Regions from separate parts of the Homo sapiens genome. Here all the other regions are linked to region 2. Evidence: fine-mapped expression QTL. A gene starts in region 2. Each other region holds a variant in brackets. All regions are shown on one strand. Distances are between the middles of the regions. Region 1 holds the start of METTL17 (methyltransferase like 17). Region 2 holds the start of NDRG2 (NDRG family member 2). Region 3 holds the start of LOC105370398 (a long non-coding RNA gene).

What was found.
Region 1: its variant is fine-mapped to the expression of NDRG2 in whole blood (TOPMed, PIP 0.92).
Region 3: its variant is fine-mapped to the expression of NDRG2 in whole blood (TOPMed, PIP above 0.99).

The regions. Positions count from the first base shown.
Region 1 is chr14:20,983,939-20,991,050 of GRCh38, forward strand. It overlaps METTL17 (methyltransferase like 17), which reads left to right and starts at 6,042. Exons shown (of 14, transcript NM_022734.3): 1 at 6,042-6,139; 2 at 6,292-6,445; 3 at 6,526-6,660. The coding sequence starts at 6,065. RefSeq lists a silencer at 5,689-5,818 and an enhancer at 6,569-6,618. The variant T/C (reference allele first, on the strand shown) is at 3,663.
Region 2 is chr14:21,021,148-21,028,259 of GRCh38, forward strand. It overlaps NDRG2 (NDRG family member 2), which reads right to left and starts at 3,914. Exons shown (of 16, transcript NM_001320329.2): 1 at 2,883-3,914; 2 at 2,094-2,174; 3 at 1,717-1,758; 4 at 1,245-1,350; 5 at 915-1,035; 6 at 670-732. The coding sequence starts at 2,168. It overlaps MIR6717 (microRNA 6717), which reads right to left and starts at 2,239; the gene lies at 2,167-2,239. It also overlaps a transcript of TPPP2 not described here. RefSeq lists a silencer at 3,747-4,036.
Region 3 is chr14:21,046,914-21,054,025 of GRCh38, forward strand. It overlaps LOC105370398 (a long non-coding RNA gene), which reads right to left and starts at 1,782. Exons shown (of 4, transcript XR_943588.3): 1 at 1,349-1,782; 2 at 1,142-1,233; 3 at 1-17. It also overlaps a transcript of NDRG2 not described here. The variant G/A (reference allele first, on the strand shown) is at 3,988.

The DNA of each region.
Region 1 (7,112 bases), 37 kb before region 2:
GAATTTGAAGACAATGGGCATACCCTTGCTCCCTTTCCTGAGTTTTTTCTGGTTTAATATCTTTGATCTTTTCAGTCAGGGCTCATTTTGCATAGTTTTCTCTGGTTGCTTTACTGAACATATAGCGCTCTTAAGGCAGTTCTGGGAGACAAAAATTCTCCAGGAATGTTCTGGTCAGTAGATAAAGCACAACACCTTGTTCCTACCATTGATTTGGGAAGTAGGTTGTTGGTTGTCACATCACACCATAAACTTATTAGTCAACGGGTAGGCCTAAGTCTCTCTCATAAGTGCTGCTGCTAAGAAATATCTTCTTCCAGACTGTACTCACGCCGAAGGATAGAATTTACTAAACTATCCTTGTTAAATTTCATTATTAAATCCAGTCACTCATCCTAGCCTGTCATGTCTACCTGGGATCATTATTAGCTATCTCTTCTAGTTTCATACATCAAAATTGGTTCAATCGGTTTTATTTTCTAATGCAAATAAACAATAGGGTCAGGGCTGAAGATACTGTCCTAGAAAGTTTACTTTCCAAAATGTACCATCAACTCATATTTAAGGGCCTCTCTCCCTAGGAGAACATGAGACCACTTGATGTCTTGAACTCTAGAAACACTATGGTTGCAGCAATCAACCCCTTGTGCCACAGTTGGCCCCACTTTAGTAGTATGAACACTAGCTGAGTGTCCAGCTCCACCAGTTGCTGCTCTGGGTGACCTCAAGCAAGTGGCTACTCTTTATCAGATTGTAGGAAAATTAAATGTGATGGTCATTATTCATTTACAGTTTACCACGTGCCTTCCACATTCAGCCTTACCTCGCTGAATCCTTAAAATTACTCTATAATGTTGGAGGCCAATCAACTATTATCTTCATTTTACAGACAGCGGAAACTGTATCTTGCTCTCAGTACTATGGTGCCCCCATGAGAGATGCAGACTCAGGGCACCCAGACCCCCAGCCATCTCTGCATCTGCAACACTTATACAACACAAAAGCCACAATGGCTGAAGTGTACAGCATTCCCAAAAGCAGCACCCTGGCCCTGGCCCCCTCATGCTGGTCCTTGAACAGCAGTTGCCCGCATTCTGTGGCCCCAGGGCCTACATGGGCCGGGTTCCCTGTGGAAGGAGGGCAAAGTAGATATTCATTCTTTTACAGATTTTACATAAAGATCTGTGTTTTTTTTTTTTTAGGTTTATGTTAGTTGACATGGAATGGAGGCATTAATCAGGTCAAGACTAAAATCTAGAGAAGATAAATCCAATGCATATGGAGCAGTGGAATCACTTCAGGAGGAACTGAACAGACTGCTTTAATTCACTGCAGAATTTTGAACAGCAAGAAATCCAAAGACTCAAGTTTCCAGCATAGAGGTGTGATGAGATGGAGAATGTTTGTATGAAGAGAGAAACAGGGGTGTTGCTAAAAACAAAAAAGAAGCTGGGTTCCTCCTTGGAATGGCCCTCCCTTGCTCTACTTGTTTTGGGTTTTAGGCTCCCCTTTATACAACATGGCTCTTTGGAGTGCTGGAGTAGGATTAAAAAGAAGAAAGAGGCCAGGCATGGTGGCTCACACCTGTAATCCTAGCACTTTAAGAGGCCGAGGCAGGTGGATCGCCTGAGGTCAGGAGTTTGAGACCAGCCTGGCCAACATAGAAAAATCCCATCTCTACTAAAAATACAAAAAAAAAATTAGCTGGGTATAGTGGCGCACGCCTGTAAACCCAGCTATTCAGGAGGCTGAGGCAGGAGAATCGCTTGAACCCAGAAGGCAGAGGTTGCAGTGAGCCGAGATCATGCCATTGCACTACAGCCTGGGCAACAAGAGTGAAACTCTGTCTTAAAAAAAAAAGAAGAAGAAGAGGAAGAGGAAGAAGAAAGAGGAGGAGGAGGAGGAGGGAGAGGAAGCTGAACTGGCTTGTAGAAGATTTCATAGATGTCTGATGCCCACAGTACTATCAGAGCTTGAACAAAAACAGCTCCACCAAATTCAAAGTAGAAATTTGGAACAAGATTTGAACAAGAAAAAAAATACCACTTCCCATAACACAGTCTCCTCCTCTCCTAGCTTTAGCCCTTAACACAGAGTGTGGCACATCTAACATGGTCAGTAAAGAATTCCACCAACTCAAGAACGAAAAATAAACTCCCTATCATGGATAAATGTCTTTCCCCATTATATATCTTTCTTTCCTCTTTATCTTCTCTTTCTTCATCCCTTTCTTCTCACATTTTTTCTTCATTTTCTGTATAATAGCAAGTCTCCTAGGCCAGGTGGCTGTGCTGGCCATTCCCAGTAGTTCTCAAAAACACAAACAGATCCTTCTGGAAAGTTCTGTCTTGAATTGGTCCCTGTTGCAGGACAGTACATTAGAAATGGTATTTCTAGAAGGCTTGGAGAAGTAGATGATAAGCCAGAGTTTCCTTCTTGGGATTCCTCTCCCGAGTCTGAACTGGAAACCATTGACCTAGTTGTTAAACAATGGAGGCCCCCAACCCAGAACATTTTAATGGGATAACTTTTAGATTTTCTTGAGAAACATGAACTGAGAATAGAAAGACTTCTACATTCTCTCACTGCCCTGGCCATTCCGGTCCCTATTTCAGGGTCTCAGTCCCTCAGGAGAGATATACGAGACCCCCAATGGGTGTCCAATCCTTGGATTTTCCTCTAAGACTTTATCCATGTGTTAAGAGTCCACAATGCACCTCCAAAGAAGCTCCTGTGTGACCACCATTCATCTTCTGAGGATATCAGCGATCCTTTCATGCCATCCCATGCCAAGACTAACACTGCTCTGTGGTGATCCCCCATCCTATATCTGTAGGAAGCCATGCTGGGTCTGCCCGAGCCAGAGTTTTCAAAATCTATAATCCCTCCAGAACCTCCTTGCTTTCCTCAACATAGATTTTTGCCAAAGGAGATCAGATCCAATTGGAAGATCCCTCCCCCGCAGCAGAATACTTTGTAATTGGATTAGTCTCAACAGCAACAGTAGTTCTGGCCTTGAATATGAGTTAATCAGCCAAGTCACAACACAAGAAAGCTGACTGCACCAGAAAACCCTGTACAATCCGTGAATTTCTTCATGGTTGAGACTCAGATGAATCATCATGTTGATCTGACTCATGCTTCTCCCTGCCTTAGGCCAAGAGACTGAGGCTTCACCTGGGATCTGCCTCTTTCCCACTCAAGAGTCAAATGAGCCCCCAAGGAGTAAGAAAAAAATGTGATTGATTCTGATTTGCACCCCAGTCTTTTTTTAATTTATCATAAAGAATCAAATATTTACATTAGAAGATATCTTGTGCTGTGAAAAAAAAGGAATAAAAGAAGGGAGGAAGAAAAGAAGTGGGAGGGTGGGAGAGAAAGGAAACAATAGAATAAGGCAGGCGCGGTGGCTTACGCCTGTAATCCCAACACTTTGGGAGGCCAAGGCCAGAGGATCGCTTGAGCTCAGGAGGTCAAGACCAGCCTGGGCAACGTGGAAAGACCCCATCTCTCGAAAAAAATAAAAAATTAGCCAGGCACAGTAGCATACACCTGTCGTCCCAGCTATTCAGGAGGCTGACGTAGGAGAATCGCTTGAACCTAGGATGTGTGGCTGCAGTGAGCCATGTTCTCACCACTGCACTCCAACCTGGGTGACAGAA[T/C]GTCACCTGTCTTAAAAAGAAAACAATAGGCTAGAAAAAAAAGAAAAGAAAGCAGTAAGTGACATAAGACCAAGAGGAAAAAGGGAAACTTGAGCATCATCTGTCCTCCCAGTGGCCTACGGAGGGAAAAGAGTAGACACTTAGCTTCACAGTCCACCGCAAATCAGGCAGGGTCACTTCTGCAAACACTGGTAACCTACTAAAACCCAAGCACAGAATAAGACAGACACTGAGATTCAGAGATAAAGTCAAGATGGCTCCTACTGTTGCAGGGGAACTAGAATGACTCAGAATCCCAGACAGGTCATGTTTGAAGAGGCCATTCATTCACTCCCATTGAGGTGAAAGTTGCATCCCTTTCTCCCTTCTCTCCTTCTCTTATCCTGGAGCGCAAACATTGTGTGGAGTGCAAACATTGTGTGGAGCCCCTACATAGGCGCGGTGGCTTATGCGTTGGAGTTGAACTACTATGAAGGTACTTGAGATCTGGTGATTCCCTTGGATAAATTTCCTACAAGGAATCATTTCACAAAGTTTTATGGACAGAAAATGCCCATAATTTGGATGGTGGCTTTTGGAGCCGTGACATGATCTCAGCTATATGAATAGAATTATAAGGACAAGATGCTGAGGGATTTACTCAAGAGCTCTGACTAGCTGACAGTAGAATCTTGGCAGATCTTCCAACACACACATCTAGTATGGCCCAATCTTCAGAATTATCTGTGCATTTGGGCAAGAATAGGCCCCATCGCCAGCACCCTGGCATTTGGGCAAGACTCGCACAAAAAATGAGGGATGGCTTCAGGAGTAAGAACCTTTGAGACGGCCTGGGTTGTGGACTTAATAGTCTGGAGAGATATCAACAGGTATCAATTTAATTTAATGGTTCCATTCCTCAGATATCTCTAGGGCAGAGTCCTCAGCCCAGGGCACACACAGAATCACGACTCTGAACGTGAGCATTCTCACTGGAGGGGTAGAGGTCACTGTGGTGACCCTTTTGAGCACCCAGGAAAGATTCCCAGGTAAAAGGAGGACTGAGGAAAAGCTGGAAAAGAGGCAAGTGTCAGCCTAGGATGTGTCAGTGGGCCATGCATTCATCTACAGGAAGGGCGGTTCCGCCTGGAAGAGGCAGAGCGGCCCTTCTCCCCCTGTCCACCCATGTCTCCTCACCCCACCTCACCCCGAGATGAGGAGCCCTGAGAGAGCTGGCAGGCTGCAGTCGGTGAGGTCTGCAGATTTGGGGAAGAAGTCGAATAAGGTAGAGAACCACAGAAGGAAAGTCCAATTAGGGCGCTGGGGCCTGAGATCATCAGGCCCTAGCCTGATGACTCAGGAGTCTAGCCCTCCAGATGAACTGGCTGGTTCCACACACAGGTCAAGTGGATGTGCTGGGAGAACATCCTAAACCTGTAACGGAAATTAGGGGGCCAGGAGCCCACAGAAATCACACACTGGGTGAGCTCAAGTGTTCGGAGACTGAGGTAGCAGTTGTCCACTGTCAGGTCCCGAAAGTAGATATCGCCTTGCATATGCCATTTATCCTTCTGATGCTCTAGTGAATGAAGGTGTTGATGAGCTTGCAGACTCTGGAGACCATTCCCCTATGCTATATTATCACGTCACAATAGTGGCTGGACCCACCTGAGATTCTGCACCTCAGGTAATCAGACGGCTACTGTCTAAGTCCTGGGCCTGGGGGAAACACTCTGACGTAGCAGCAGACACAGGAGGGTCCCCGTCAGAACCATGTTTTCTGTGAAGTGGGGATCAGTCCTTTTCCCTGAAGTACCTAGCACATAGGTGTTCTCAGTAAGTGTTATGTTAGCTTACTAAGAAGACTGGTCTCATTTGAAGAGAAATTAACAAATGTAAAAAAATAAATAAACCTATTAACTAGGTTTAATATTTATCAAACTATTAACTATTCAATAATCATTTAACTATTAATTTCTGTTTTCTTCAGTCGCTTAAATCTGATTTTTCTCTTCTTTCCGTTACTGCAGTCTCCCTTTTTCACACAGGGAAACAACCCAAGACTCAGAGTTCTCCGCGGAGGAATGCAAAGAACACAGGAAGTCAGTACTCCCAGAAACAGTCTTTGCTGGCGCGCTCACACCCAACCCCATCCCGCCCCCGTCCCGTCCCGCCCCGCCCCACCCCACCCTCTTGATTTCTGGGGCCGGTGACCAGGCCCAACGCAGCCTTCAAGTCGGCCCAAACACGGTTTCTGCCTCAAGGATTATTTATATAACCATTGCTTATTGGCTGCTGGCAAACACTCGCTCTTCTCGTTGGCTGAAACTGTCGGGAGAAGTTCTGCGAAGGCTGCTCCTTGCGGCGTTGGGACTGAGGGTCACAGGCACCTGTATTTCCGTTTCCGGTTCGCCTCCGGAGCCATGGCGGCGGCACTGAAGTGTCTACTGACATTAGGAAGATGGTGCCCCGGCCTTGGAGTGGCTCCCCAGGCCCGGGTGAGTGCCTACATTCCCTGCTGTCGGAGAGACTCTGGATCTGCAGAGACATCTCCGCGCAGAGGAGGAGCGCTCCTGGCAGCCCCCGCCCTAGCGATTGCCAGCAACTTTCCTTTCTGCCAGGAAATCAACCTACCTTTCTCTGCCTGCAGGCGCTCGCCGCCTTAGTACCCGGAGTGACCCAGGTAGATAACAAGTCCGGTTTCCTGCAGAAGAGGCCTCATCGCCAGCACCCTGGCATCCTAAAGCTGCCGCACGTGCGGCTGCCACAGGCACTGGCTAACGGTGCCCAGTTATTGCTACTTGGTGAGTAACGGCGGGAAAGCGAGAAGAAACGGGACTGGACCTACATGCAAGTGATTCCGCTTTTCGTCTTTGGCCCATAGGGAGCGCTGGGCCCACTATGGAGAATCAGGTGCAAACACTGACCAGTTATCTCTGGAGCAGACATTTGCCTGTAGAGCCAGAGGAGTTGCAAAGACGGGCTAGGCATCTTGAGAAAAAATTCCTGGAAAACCCAGGTAGGACTTAAGAATAATTAAAAAGTGGGCGAGATTGAAATATCGGTTAGAAATGAAGAGTAAGAAATAATTCTACAATCTCTCAGATACTGAAGTCTCTTATTTGACTTTCTAACCAGAGCAGCAGTTGTTACAATGATGCCTTACTAAAAGAAGGTAGATTATTTTAGAGATTGCTTAGGTAAAGGTCAGAATGTCCCAGTATACTGTTTTTTGTTTGTTTGTTTGTTTTGTTGTTTTGTTTTTGCTTTGAGACAGAGTCTTGCTCTGTCACCCAGGCTGAAGTGTAATGCTCGATCTCGGCTCACTGCAACCTCCGCCTCCCGGGTTTAAGTGATTTTCCTGCCTCAGCCTCTTCAGTAGCTGGGATTACAGGCGTGCACCACCACACCCGGCTACTTGTATTTTTAGTAGAGACGGGGTTTCATCATGGTGGCCAGGCTAGTCTCGAA
Region 2 (7,112 bases):
TTCTCAATTTTCAAGAGCCAGTTCAACTTGTTCTGCTTTAGTTCCTGGTTCCTCTAGAGGAACGGGAAGAATGGAACTTAAAGCAAATGTGAAAACAGACACAATTTTAGTGAACAATGGAGAGAATGAGGAAAAGAGTGGCAAAGTGGTGAACCAGAGCTGCTGAGCCCTGGTGCCTAGGAGAAGCTTAGCTAAGAACAGCACCCAGGGGCCAGCACCTCCCTCTGAATACCAAAGACACTTGGTCTGGTGTTCTCTTCCTTCCCCAACTCTCTCTCACCCGCAGAGCTCCCCATCCACCAGGTGTGGGCATGAAGGAGAGGGGAGTGGGAGAGAAAGAGACAGGTCTATCTGGTTCCTCAGGGATTATGTCACCCCCTTTCATTCCTCCCTGACTTTCTGATCAGAGAAGGCCCTCCTTAGCCTGAGGCAGGGCCAAGCATAGACCCTTTTCCTTCCCTCCACCCATTAGGGCTATTCTGTTGACTCTGGCCAATTTTCCAAACCCACCACCTTTTCTCAATAATCAAGGCGGGAGCATGAAGGAAGAAGATATATTGAGTTCAGAAGCTGAAACTGGCTCAGGAACCACGGTGAACCTGGAAGTTCTAAGGGTCTCCTTGTGCTGGAAAGAGAACTCTGGTTTGGAGGGGTTCCCAGGCCTCTCACTTTAGGTACTGCAGGACGCAAGGGATCATGTCTGCAAGCTGGTCCAGAGATGGGTACTGATATCTGGAAAAGAGAGGCATGTTAAGGAAGATACCAACCTGCCCTCACACCCCCCACCTCAGGATGTCCTACTCATTCTCTCCCAGAATAACCACTGCCCTCCCTTTCCTCCTCCCCAGTCGAACCTTTCCCGCACCTGTCCTGTTCCTCACAGTCTGGTGAAGCAGTAACGACCTAACTCTTACCCCAAAGGGAACACAGGGGCTCCCTCTTCCATTCCAGGGGCATCCACATGAACCCGCACAAAGTTCTGAATGATTTCCTGCATGTCCTCGAACTGAAACAGTGGCTGGAAGCAAGATTTATCTAAAGAGAACCCACATCACCTCAACAATAGAATCAGACAGGGACTCGTGTCCCCCAGTCAGAACTCACCCTTCCTTTCATGCCACAGTCAGACCAGGAGAGAACTTCTCCTTCCCACACTGACCCCTCCCCTCCCTCTGGGTTTCATTTCTACCCTTCCCCCACAGCCTCTTCCCAGACAGGAGTGGGAGATGAATGAAGGTCCTTACAGTTGAGTCCCACATCGTGGTAGGTAAGGATCGCTGGGCGTTTGGGTTTGGGGGTGCCATAGACAGTGAAAGTGACAGAGCCGTATGGTGTCTCCACAGAGTGAGTCTGCAGGAAAACAGGGCACCAAGAGCTAGGCTCAGAGGAGACGAGGCCAGAAAAGGAGCAACACCAAGGTCAGGGAGCTGGGAGTGGGTGGGCAAGAGGGAAAAGGGAACAAAGAATTAAAAACAGGATCAGCAAGAATTGAGGAAAACATGATACCGGAAGATGAGTTTGAGGATAAGAAAGAATAATGAAGATTAGAGAGAGAAGAGGAGGGGAAGGAAGGAGAGGGGAGAGATAGGGAAGGGAAAGGACTAGAATAGAAGGAAAGAAAGCAAAGAGAGAAGAGAGGGCCAAGCAGAGGCCATCCTTCTACTGGGGAAGAGGACAGCCCCTCCTCCCACCTTGGGACTGCCCCCACACTGTTACCTGTCCCTGGTCCAGGAGGATTCGGGCAGCTAACTCAGCCTCCTGGAGAGACACACACGGATTCACACAGAAACACATGACCATGTGGCGTCCCAGATGGAGAGACAAACAGACAAAGAGAGGCAAGTAAAGACAGACCAACAAATGACCAAAGACAGAAAGAGATTGACAAAGAGAGACACGGAAAGGATGAAGGTTAGTGTAGTGACGAGACAAGGGCCTGACTCCCAATTATAGTGTATGGGGAGAGAGACTAGGGTAGTGGTGAAGCAGTGGTGTGAGTTAGAATAAGATCAGTACGCTTGGGAAGTTAGAAGGCAAGGGGGATGCTTAGAGGTCTGGAATTTGGGCATGGGAGTCAAACGGTCTCTAATAACCTTGGCCGCCTCAGGCGTCTGTCCTGGCAACAGTGGCTTCTCCTCTGTGATCTGCACCTCCTGCAGCTCCGCCATGGTGGCCTGGCAGGATGAGGAAATGAGACTGGGAAGTTGTCTCTACATCCCCACATCGCCTCAAACACCAGGCTTCCTCTCTCAGCACAGGAAGATGCAGGGAACAGAGGGACCCAGGGGTTGAAGACTACTCTAGAACACACAGAGGGCCTTTCCTGCCCCCAGCTCCGTTTCCAGGCTGATCGGTGGAAGCTTTGGAAGAGGAATCAGGACAGCCCTTCTCTTGATACTCACCATCCCCACTGCCACCCTCAACACCACACCTCCAGACCCCTCCCTCCTCTGCCCTGGACCAAAATACCAGGGTGGGGCAGAAGTGTAGCTCAGATTTCTCGGGCTATATTTAGGGGCCACCCCACACTCTCAGGTAGGGAGTGAAACTTGTAGCTCAGTGACTGAGTATTCTAAAGGACAGGGTACCAAAAGACGGGACTGTGAGAGTTCACAATTGACCATGACCTTCAATTAAAGCCCCAAAGTCGGCAGCTCAAAGGGGGCTAAAAATGACCAAAGCAACATGACCAATGGGGGAGGTGGGGAAAACAACATAAAAGGGACATCTGTCCAACCAACCCAATGCCTCCCTTCCTCCCAAGACCCTTCCTCCCAACTCTGAATAAACTCCGCAAGTTCAACATTAGTGGGTGAGGAGCAGAGCACCTGGACAGACCTGCACAGGAAGGAGCCTGCAGCCTGCGGGGTGGGGTCACTTACTGGGCTCCTATTGGCTGGATGCAGTGGGATTAGGGGTCAGGGTTCTCACTCCTTCTGACTCTGGGGTCTGAGAAAACACAGCAACGAGGTGAATGACATGGGAGACAGACCTGGGGTCTTTCAGGGACGGAAAGCCTCAGCCAAGACCCAGACTCCCAGGGTCATCAACCTCCTCGGGTCACTAACCCTCCCCAGTGTCTGTCTACCCCTAAGTCCAGAGAACACGTCCTCTCTAGGCTCGAGCCGGAATCAATATAGGCTACAAGGGCATCAGTTCAGGCTGCGCGGAGGAGAGAAGGAAGTGCTGATGTGGAGGTAAGAGGGTGGCCCTGTCAGAACCTCCGGATTCGAATCCCGGCTCTGCCACTCCCAGTGTGACCTTGCCCCAGTTAGTTACTACATTTGGCCTCAATTTTCTATCTGCAGGGGGACTAAACGCGGGGGAATAGGGGATCCCCAAAATTTTTGACAGCTCTCCAGTAAGAGGAGGGTAGCAGAGCATGGCTGTTTCCCTCCACAATTTAAAAACAAACACAAAGATTGGTGCCGTCGCTTCTCTCCTCTACTCAGTCTCCGTGTAGGTCCCACGAGTGGAGAAAGGGAGAGGAGAGCGGTCCCACAATCTTCTCCCGTTCTCCCCCGACGGCCCGCGAAGGCAAGCGCCATCGGGAAGGGATGGGTAGGACAGAGGAGACCGGCCGGGCCCAGCACCCGGAACCCGTCCCTACGAGTCCCTACGCAGCCCGTCCGCGTGGAGACTGACACCCTTGCGTGGCCGGTGCCAAGCGCCCCGGACCTTGCACACAACCTCGCGCGCACCCCAAACACGCCCTGCAGCTCTTGGAGCCTCAGCCTTTGTGCGCAGCAACCGAGCGCCCGCTCCGTGCTGGCCCTTTCCCCCGAGCCTCCAGCTCCAGGGGACGCGGATCAATCACACCGCCCGCCGGCCCGGCTGGCGCCTTCCAGGCCCTACGGCCCCTCGCCTGCCCCTCCCCCTACCTGCTGCCGCCGCGGCCGCTTCCACCTTCACTTGCCTTTGACTCGGGCCCGCCCCGGCTCGGGCTTCCCGCAGACCCGCCCCCGGCCCGCCCCAGCCCGCCCACGGGCGCTAGGCTCCCCGCAGACCCGCCCCAGACCCCCAGTAAACACGCCCCCCCTTTCACCCCGCCCAGACTGCCGCTCAGGAAAGGGTTGTGCTGGGGCCGGGGGGCGAGGGGCGGGCGGCTGGACGCTTCCAGGCTCTGCTCGGCTCACCAAAACATTCCACCACCCCCTCCCCGCATTGGGGCGGTGTGGGGAGTGCGGGGATCCCTCAGCCCTGAGAGGGATCCCTCGGCTGCCCTCAGCACCGCCCCATCCACGACCTGGATCTGCAATTGCACTCTGGCTCCTTCCTTCGCCCCCAGACTCAGTGGTGGGAACCGGTAGTGGGGAGACGAACCCGGGATACTGACACCCCACGAGTTCGACTCCCCCCGCCCGAACACAGAGAACTAGATTAAGAAAGGAGGAGGTGGGCGGGACCGCCGCTGAGGAGGCGGGGGTCTCGCCGGCTGGCAGGGGCAGGTGTGCTGGCGCCGAAAGGGGGCACGGGGGAACGTCGAGGGCGCAGGAGTTCCGACTCCCTCGTGCCCAGAGTCCTGGTACCTCTCCTCTCTTTGCTGCGTCCCGACGCCTGCTCTCCGGCTGCTCCGGGAGAAGTTGGACAACAAGGCGGGGAGGTGGGGGCGGGGAATGCGGGGGGCCGCTATAAATAGAGGGCGATCGCGGGCAGGCGGGGGGTGGGGAGAGGATGGCCAACAGGGACTCTGGGGTCAATGCCTCAAGGGGCGCGGGGGAGGGGCCGGGGACCCCCAGAGGCTCTGACTCCTGGGTAAACAGGCGCAGGGGCGGAGTTAACCCTGCGGGGGTGGAGTAGGGGCTTGGGGAGGACGCAGTGTCCTGGGCTGGGACCCAAGAGACCCTGTGGCTTCGCCGCTAACCCCTCCCAGTCCGGCCCAGAATAGGAGACCAGCTCAGGCCCGCTGAATCGCAATGCCCGGGGGATGGTCTCAGGGTCTGCCGCGTCCCTCTCGGTGCCCGAGTGGGTTTGCCACTGTAGACTTTACACACACACGCACACGCACACACACACACACACCCTGGAATGAGCTCTCCTTGTGCCCCTCGGAGGAAGGCTCCCTGGAATGAGTTAGTTGATTAAAAATGTGGCTTAAGGGAATTCGAAGTTGTTTAGGCAAAAGGAAACCTGACTGAATTTCTCCCCACCTGCCCCCCTTGTAGCTCCCCCAATCCCAGGATCATATCCACCCCAACCCCCTTCAGACTGGTTCCTGAGTTGCCATTTCGGGGGCTGGGCGCCAGGCCAGTCAGGAACAATGGCCAATGGAACTTGAGCTGCCAACTGCAACACCAGCACCGACTGCCCCCCCAAGACCCCCAAGTTTCCCTGCCCCCTCCTGCCTGGGAACCACCCTCCCACCACCACCCTCACCACCCGCAATACCCCTCCCATCCAAGGAACATCAATGCCCCTTTCATCCCCACTTGGCAGGGTCTACTGGAAAGAAGGAGAGGCCAAGAGGGAGGAGGTGACCCACAGTAGGAAAACTGGTCGGGCTAAAACCCAGCCTTCAACAACCCCAAATCTAAGGAGCTCCCCCTACATCCCCCAATTTGGAGCACCCAACTTTTCTTCTGTTCCTTTCTCCCACTCCCTTTATAACTTTTTCCCCAGAAACTGGCACAGAAGCTGGGCACCCTGGCTCCTCTCCTAGTCCCCTCTTCCCTCTGGATGCCAGTTTAACACTCTCCTGGACAAGGAAAAGCCTGCTGGAATAAGGGTCACAGCCAAAGGTGCGCAAGACAGGAGAGATCTCATCAGCACCAGAGGAACCTGGGGAGAGGGAGAGCCTCGAGTGAGAACTTTTGCCTGCAGGCTTTTCTTTGTCAAAAGTCGTCTTACTTGGAGTGGGGGAGGGAAGGACCTGAAGGTTCCAGCATCTAAATTCGTCTCTGGGTCAGGATGACTCAGGGGGAACCTGATAAGGGGCCTACGCAGGGGCGCAGGGCAGGCAGGAGATGGGAAATTTCCACTGACATCCATTGGCTTCCTAGACCTTGGGGTCCCACCCAGCCTGCTGCAGGCAGAAGTAAGGCTGGTTCTCCCCTAAGATATGGTTCTTCCATGTCAGGGCAGCTCCCAGCCCAACCAGGGTGTAAGTGTTGCAAGGACAATCTCTGTCTAAACTCTTTCCCTTTGGCCAGAGCAGCTTCACACTATACCTTCAAGTAAGCAACAGTTTTAAGTATCTGTTATGTGCAAGCCACTGTGTAGATGAAATTCAAAGTGTGCATCTGGTCACACCCTCTCTAGACATTTGTGATGAGAAATGACATTTTGACATTTGTCAAGAGAAGGTACAAACACAGGACAAGTTATATATAAGATCAATCATTTGGACAGTAAGTCCTATAGCAGTAGTTTCCCACCCTTCTCAAGTGGGAGATTAGAGATTTCCAACCCCACATAATAGGTATAGTATCCCCTGATGGAGAAAATGCAAACTATGAATTCATCAATACTTTGAAGTAAGTTTCTGTCACAACATCTGTAAATGCGGTAATACCTACACATGCAAGGCATATTATTTACTCAGTTCACACTCACTCTTTATACATACAGATTCTAGGGCCCTTTGCAAGATTTCAGAAATCCTCACGCCAGGAGGCTGTGGCCCACAGTCTAGAAATCATTATCTTACTATAATTCAGAGAAGGAAAAGGGCTTTGTTCCTAGGATGAACCACCAAATGAGAAGTGCAACCATGGAATACTTGAGTGGGAGTGAGGGGCATTCTATCCAGGCACAGAGAGAGCATGAAGGACAGTTTGGAGGCAGAAACATTCAGGTTACTTTGGAGAACTGAATAGTAGCTTCCCATGTATTATCCCCTAATACCGTAAGGTTAGTGTTATCGTCCTCACTGTACAGATGAGAAAATTGAAACTCAGAAATGTTTAGTGAGTTGCCCAAGTCCACTCAGCTAGTAAATGACATATCTAGGATTCATTTCCCCACCCCGGTCCATTCCACTCCAGGGACTATGCTCCTTCCACTCCCAAGTAGCCTGTCAAGTGTATAGCAATTAGGCCATATGACCCCAGCTGCAGAATAATCTGGTTCTTAGGTTTTTTGTTTCTTGGGGTTCTTTTTGTTTTGTTTTGTTT
Region 3 (7,112 bases), 26 kb after region 2:
TCTTCACGTTAAGGAGGCTGAGGAGGAGAAGGAAGAGGAGGGGTTGGTCTTGCTGTCTCAGGGATGGCAGAAGCAGATGAAAATTTGAATGTAAGTGGACTTGCACAGTTCAAATCATTGTTGATCAAGGGACATAAGGTTCTCCCTAAAGTTATCTAGCTAACACACTCTCTTCTATTATTTATATTATCGGTCAACTAATTTCCTATTTTTTAACCATGTGGAAATTTTAAATAATTGTTTCATATATAAGCTTTCACAACAATTAATAATAGCATCTTTCTTAAAAATAATAAATAATAATAAATACCCATTTATACTTCCACTGGCTGGTAGAATTTCAATATAATAATTTTTTTTTAAGCTCACAAGGAAAATTTCACTCCAGGTTACATCTAGAGTACTCACCAATATTTGGAAGTAACTATTCAGATATTAACAATAAATCCAAATGGCCTGGCCTATTCTTATTAGTGGTGCCCTACCTGAATAGATTTGTCACTCAATCCTTCGTGTGACCTTGATCACAGCCAAGTTAAAGGATGCCAGGAATAGTGATGAAATAGGAATTTGACTATTCAGCCTTCCAAAAGCCAAAGCTGAGATACAAGAAGATAATAATTTGGGCCAAATACCAAGGCTGGCTGAACTGTGATGCATTCCTACTTGAAAGCTGAAGAATGGGAAAAGGAGAATGCTTAATTATGAGATATTTATGTTTCTAGGGCTGGGAGCTTGGAGAGAGGAGGATGGTGTCCAGGGGAGCTTTGCCCAGTCTTGTGCAGATGGACTTAAATTGTTTCAACATGGAGTAAAGGAGCGGAAATGGAGTTCAGTAAAGAAAGTAAACCAAGAACTGGAGCTAGATGAGCTGGCTCTCCTAGAAGGGAGACTATCTGAGGTAGACTGGGGAGGAGACTTTTCTACATGACTCTGGTTCCCAGAAGTCTCCACACACTGAAGTAAATGAGCCCTAGACACCATGAAGAGGGCCAACAGAATCACTGTGAAGAGAAGGATCCTCAGCTCCAGGGATTTCCTCTGCCTACACCCTGCCCTTAAGATCAGGACCCTTTGGCCCTCTTCATAGTGTCTGGGGCTCTGGGGGATAACCCTTGAGCTATGGCACCAAAAAACATACCAGTAGCAACAACATCCAGGGGGCCTTCTCTTCTCCTTGGGAGAGCTTCAACTCATTTCATCACATTTCTTCCATGCACCTGCACAACTGGGCTTCCAAAAGTGCTTCAAAGACTTCAGAGCTTCATTCTAATGTCCTCCCCCTACCCCCACCCCACCATGAATGGGCAAAAAGAAGAGCAGTTATAGCTCTTATCAGGATGCTTACCTGTGCAAGACTCCAAAACCAGTAAGCTTGGGAACATCCACGGAGCCACAGGGACATGAGAAAGCCCACATTGCTAATGAGATCTTGTAAGAAGTCCACAGTTCATAAGAGGAAAGGTAAATAAAAATGTGTGCTCGTGATGAAAATACACACTGTGATAGAACGCCTCTTAGCTTAGGGAGGTGGGAGTTTCCCCATCTATATAAGCTGATCTCAAACTCCTGAGCTCAGGTGATCTACTCTCCTCAGCCTCCCAAAACTGCTGAGATTACAGGTGTGAGCCAATGCGCCTGGCAATAATGTTACCAACAGATGGTTTTTGGGCTTGAATACCTTCAGGGACATGGATCTTCACTACCACTTCACAAGAGTATAATGTGGATTAAAAGTAACAATACATATAAAGCACTTAGTACAGTGACTAGCATGTAGGGAAAGTTTGAATGGTGTTAGCATTTCTATTTATCATTGTGGTGTCAAATGTTGAGTGGTCAAACCTGTGATGAATGGAGCAGGCCTGACTTCCGTGACAGAAGAACAAAGGATTTAAACAAGGGAGGCCAAACTCCTCCTCATCCGCCTCTTGCCAAAAAGCTCCTAGCCAAGAGTAGATAAGGGAAGGTTCAAGGTCAGACAAAAAGGACAATATGTATTAGTTTCTGTAGATAAGGTTATTTGGGAGGAATGGATGGGTACTTTGAGTTGAAGGAGAAGTAAAAGGGGGCTTTGGAGAATTTCTGTTAAGATTACTTAAGGGAAGTTTTTCTCCTCTGCAACCTCTGTGAATTTATGAATCCAAAGATATGAAAATAAGTTGGAGGACTTAGGACCACTAACTTTTGAGGGTGCCCTCTGTATTCCCTCCCATCCAAAGGATTTGATTATTGCAGCAATTGATGGAGACAGGGCTCTAGTGACATTTCCAACTTCCCCTCCTGAGATATTTAAATTAGTCCTTAGGAAGGCTTACTATCCCCTCACTTCCATCGTGGAAGCCTCTTATATTTTTCCCACCCTCTGATTCAGCTCCATTTTCTGGTTCATTTTTCATCACTCAAAACCTCCACCAACGCCTGTGACTCATGTCCAGTGGATTGGTTATAGCAGAAAAACATTGTGGTCATTACTTTCTATGGTTTTTTCATAGAAACTTAGTTGAACTTACACATTTAAAACATAAACTAACTGTGGTGTGAATTAGTACAAATTCCTGCTTGGGTCGTGGCATTTAGCACAAGATGAAATTTCCTATCTCCATGGCTTTAGGGCTCTCCCAGTAGTAATCATAACATTATAATGCTGCAAGACATCTTGTCCAGTGTTCTCGGAGATCATCTAGTCATGCCTTCCTCATGTTGCAAATGAGCAAAATAACCCTGAGGACTTAAACACTTTGCCCAAGATTACATGAATAATTTAGGCAAGAACTCGGGCTTTTTTGAACAAGCCTTGTGATATTTACAAAGTGGCATTCAATATCAAATGGATCTCAGACATCTTTCTTCTTTTTTTTTTTTTTTTGAGATAGAGTCTTGCTCTGTCACCCAGGCTAGAGTGCAGTGGCACGATCTCGACTCATTGCAACCTTGTTGAGCTTTTTGGCCTCCCAGGTTCAAGCGATTCACCTACCTCAGCCTCCTGAGTAGCTGAGATTACAGGTATGCACCACCATGCCCGGCTAATTTTTGTATTTTTAGTAAAGACTGGGTTTCACCATGTTGGTCAGGCTGCTCTTGAACTCCTGACCTCATGTTCTGCCTGCCTTGGCCTCCCAAAGTGTTGGGATTACAGGTGAGCCACTGTGCCCAGCCCAGATATCTTTCAAGATCAAATCATACATGGACTGGCAAATCAATCTGCAAATGGGCAGACCCCCGGATTTGAGACAAAAGCATGTTCATCCAAAAGAGTATTAAGTGCCCGTAATCCTGACACGTTGCATTTCTGACCTTCACCTGAATGCTCATATTGTATCATTGAGATGGGAAAAAAACAGTACATGAGGAATTGATGGCAAACTAGTCAAGCATGTCCCTGGCCGTGCCATTGGCTGCTGGAAACATAAATAAGGATATGCAACAAGAAAAAGGGCCTGGACCTCCCATCTGCTACTCCGGACCAGGGTGAAAACATTACAGAGATCCTGTTTGGTGGAGCTCCGGGTGGGCCTGAGATATCCCAAGCATTTATCTTTGGTAAGGGTTACCACTTTTTACCCTTGAATTTGGCATATCCAGAACAGGATCTTCATGGTCAACTAGAACCTGCAGAGCAATGCTTCCCAGAATTTCCCCTGAAGTGCTAGTAACCACAGAGGAAGATGAACTAAAACACCTAAAGTAGTGCCCAATGAGCTTGGGCTTTCTCTGAAGCTTCTTTCACTTAACTAATATTTATAAAATAGCCGTGCATATGAGTGTTTTATATGCTATCTTTAAATTTCATTTGTGGTAATAATAATAATGGATCAATGTCAATTTCCCCTTTTTGGTGGCTGTACTGTGGTTATGCACACGAGAGTACTTGTAATTAGGAAATAGTCACTGAAGTATTAAGGGGTAATGAGCATCATGTCTGTAACTTGTTCTGAAATAGCTCAGAAATGTTAATAATTGGGGAACTGGGTGAAGCATATAGGG[G/A]AGCTCTGTGTATGCTTTCTGAAACTTTTATATACGTTTTAAATTATTTCAAAGTGAAAATGCTAAAAAAATTTAATGTAACTCATTTGAATTTTTCTATCATACAAAGTTATTTTCTGTAAAAATAATGCCTTAAATTACTCCCCATCCCCTAAAAAGATGGTTTTAGTAAAATTGTAAAGAACACATTTATCTTGTGACTTTGTGTACCCTCTGCACACATCTGTGTTCCACCTGGGGTAGCAGTACACTGGCTCTAATGTTTTCCTTAACTTGCTCTTTGTGGATTTCTGTCTCTGACCAGTGTTTCTTTTCAAGAACTGGTTGAGGAAGATAGGGTAGTCATGGGGCTAGGGCATTGGAAAGGTCCTTTTCATGCTGAAAAATGAGAAAATAGACATAGAGCACTTGGAACAGTGACTGGAACATAGAAAAGCCTCAGTAAATGTTAACTATGATTGTTTTTATCGTTATGACCCCTATCATTCCTAGCAGGGCTGAAGGCTGCACGCAGCCTTGTTGTGGTAAGTCAGAGGTCTCAGGAGGGCAGCCGGCCTATGAGGGGAACTGGCGTATCCAGGGAGCCATATGCCTCAGCTCTGGTTGGGTTGAAGACTACATCCTCTCCCTCATGAAGATGAATCCAGGAGTGAGGAACAAAGGGAGACAGTCCTCCCGCAGAGACAAGCTCATAGTGCAAATGGGCACCATAGGAAGGCCTCAAAGAACTACATAGAAAAGAAAAATGGACCTGGCAGGAGACAGGGTTAGCCACTGGAAACAGAGGAGGGCTTCCCAAAAGGAATGTGGCCACTGGATTCCATGTGATGGAGCTCTGCTTCTCAGAGCCATAAACCAGGGCCCAGACCACAGGTCTGTCACCACCAGGAGGCTGTTTGAAGGTTGAAGCTTGAAAAACCCTATGGGGGTGGCACTTGTAGTTCAAAGACGACCCTCGTGGTACTGCTGTCCTTCAGGCCAGCAAACCAGGCAAACTTCTCTGGCACCCTCGCTCAGCCCTCCTGGGGTATCCTGAAAGAATGGGTCTTTGGGAGATAGTTGCTTATTCTCTGCTCCCCTTCTTTCAAGGCACCTTCAGAGTCTACTATTAGGCCTCTCCTTCATACTAGTAAGGTGCTGGCTACTTACTAGCACTTTGATGTTTTTTCTTGTGTCACACAAGTGTCAGAACCAGGGGGCATTTTAGACATTATTCAACTGAAACTCCTTGTGTTATAAATAGTAAGAAGACTGAGAGGATCAGAGTGATGACTGAGTTCAATGCACGGTTACTGAGTGCTCCTGTGAGCTAGCCATGTGCCTGGCACTATGAAGACAGAGAAGCACGGAAGGACCTGATTCCTGTCCCACGAGTTTACCGTCTAGTTGGGAAGACTGGATGCTCTTACTGGATGAAAGAGTTAAATAGCAAAACAAGGTAGTACACGATTTAGAACCCAAATGAGTGATACTATGAAACAGTTAATGCTAAAGGAGGTTAGGATTTGTACGGCAAGGTTCGTAAATGTGATCCTGAGCAAACTCATATGGTCAAGATGAGTTCTAAAGGATGGATAATATTTGAGGGAGGACTTGCAGGGAAGAGGGAAACAGAAGCAAAGCTGAAGAGAGCAAAACATGTGCTGGAGACAAAAGGAAAATCAGGTTATTAGGATAGAATTTGGTTAGAATAGTTTGTGTTCGGAGGGAAGATAGGGAGGCCACTCATACGGAATGGGTAGACTGGACGCAAGGTGAGTAGGAGAAGGCTTTGATTCCAGGCTGGGAAGGCTGGATGTTACCTTGCAAGCAAGAGAACCACTGGAGATAAACAGATGATCTTTAGAGAAATGATGCAGGAAAAGGAATATTTTAACAAGATCCATCCAACATTATTATACATGCTCAATTAAACTCAGGAGAAAGGGTAGGCAAGGAGGCAGTTAGAAGGTGGTGAGAGTCATCCAGACAGGCAGTGGAAAGGGAGAGAAATACGTACAAGAGAACCAATAAGACTAAGTGACTCAAGTGCCCCTCCATACTTTGATCATGCTAAGTATTCAGTCTGTTAGCCTACTAATCGATATGGGGATGAAAGATTAGAAACAGTCAAAGGAGACCAGTATTTTCAACTGGAAGCGCCAAAAACAGAAACAGGGGCCTTACAAGGGGATAATCAGGTTTTGAGAAAAGTTGAATTCTCAGACAACAGAACTGGGTGCCTGATATAACTGGTAGGTAGTGAAGATTCATGTCACTGAAGGTATTCAAGCCCAAAAACCATCTGTTGGTAACGTTATTGCCAGGTGCATTGGCTCACACCTGTAATATCAGTACTTTGGGAGGCTGAGGCGAGTGGATCACTTGAGTCCAGGAGTTTGAGACCAGTGCTGGCAACGTGGCAAAACCCATCTCTACAAAAAATAGAAAAATTAGCCGCACTTTGGCCGGGCGCAGTGGCTGACACCTGTCATCCCAGCACTTGGGGAGGCCGAGGCAGGTGGCTCATGAGGTCAGGAGTTCGAGACCAGCCTGGCCAAGATGGTGAAACCCCAGCTCTACTAAAAAATACAAAAATTAGCCAGGCGCGGCAGTGGGTGTCTGTAATCCCAGCTACTCAAGAGGCTGAGGCAGGAGAATCGCTTGAACCCAGGAGGCAGAGTTTGCAGTGAGCCGAGATCTCGCCACTGCAGTCTAGCCTGGGCGGCAGAGCAAGACTCCGTCTCAGAAAAAAAAAGAAAAGAAAAAGAAAAATTAGCCACACGTGGTGGTGCAGGCCTGTAGTCCCAGCTACTCAGGAGGCTGACGTAGGAGGACCACCTGATCCCAGGATGTAGAAACTACAGGGAGCCATGATCGTGCCACTGCACTCCAGCCTGGGTGACAGAGCAAGACCCTGCCTTAAAAAAGAAAAAAAAAATACACTTCTGATCAGAGCAAGAGCTAAGATTCAATGAACTCGGAAGTGCCTTCCTGCTTTGATATTCTATGAAACTGGGTCCATGTAAGCTAGTGAAGAGCCTTGCCCAAGGTCATGCAGCTAATTAGTGAAAGAGGTGGGACCAGAATTCAGGGCTATTCATGTCTGGTTCAGTATTCTTACCACTAGACTATTTTAACTTTGA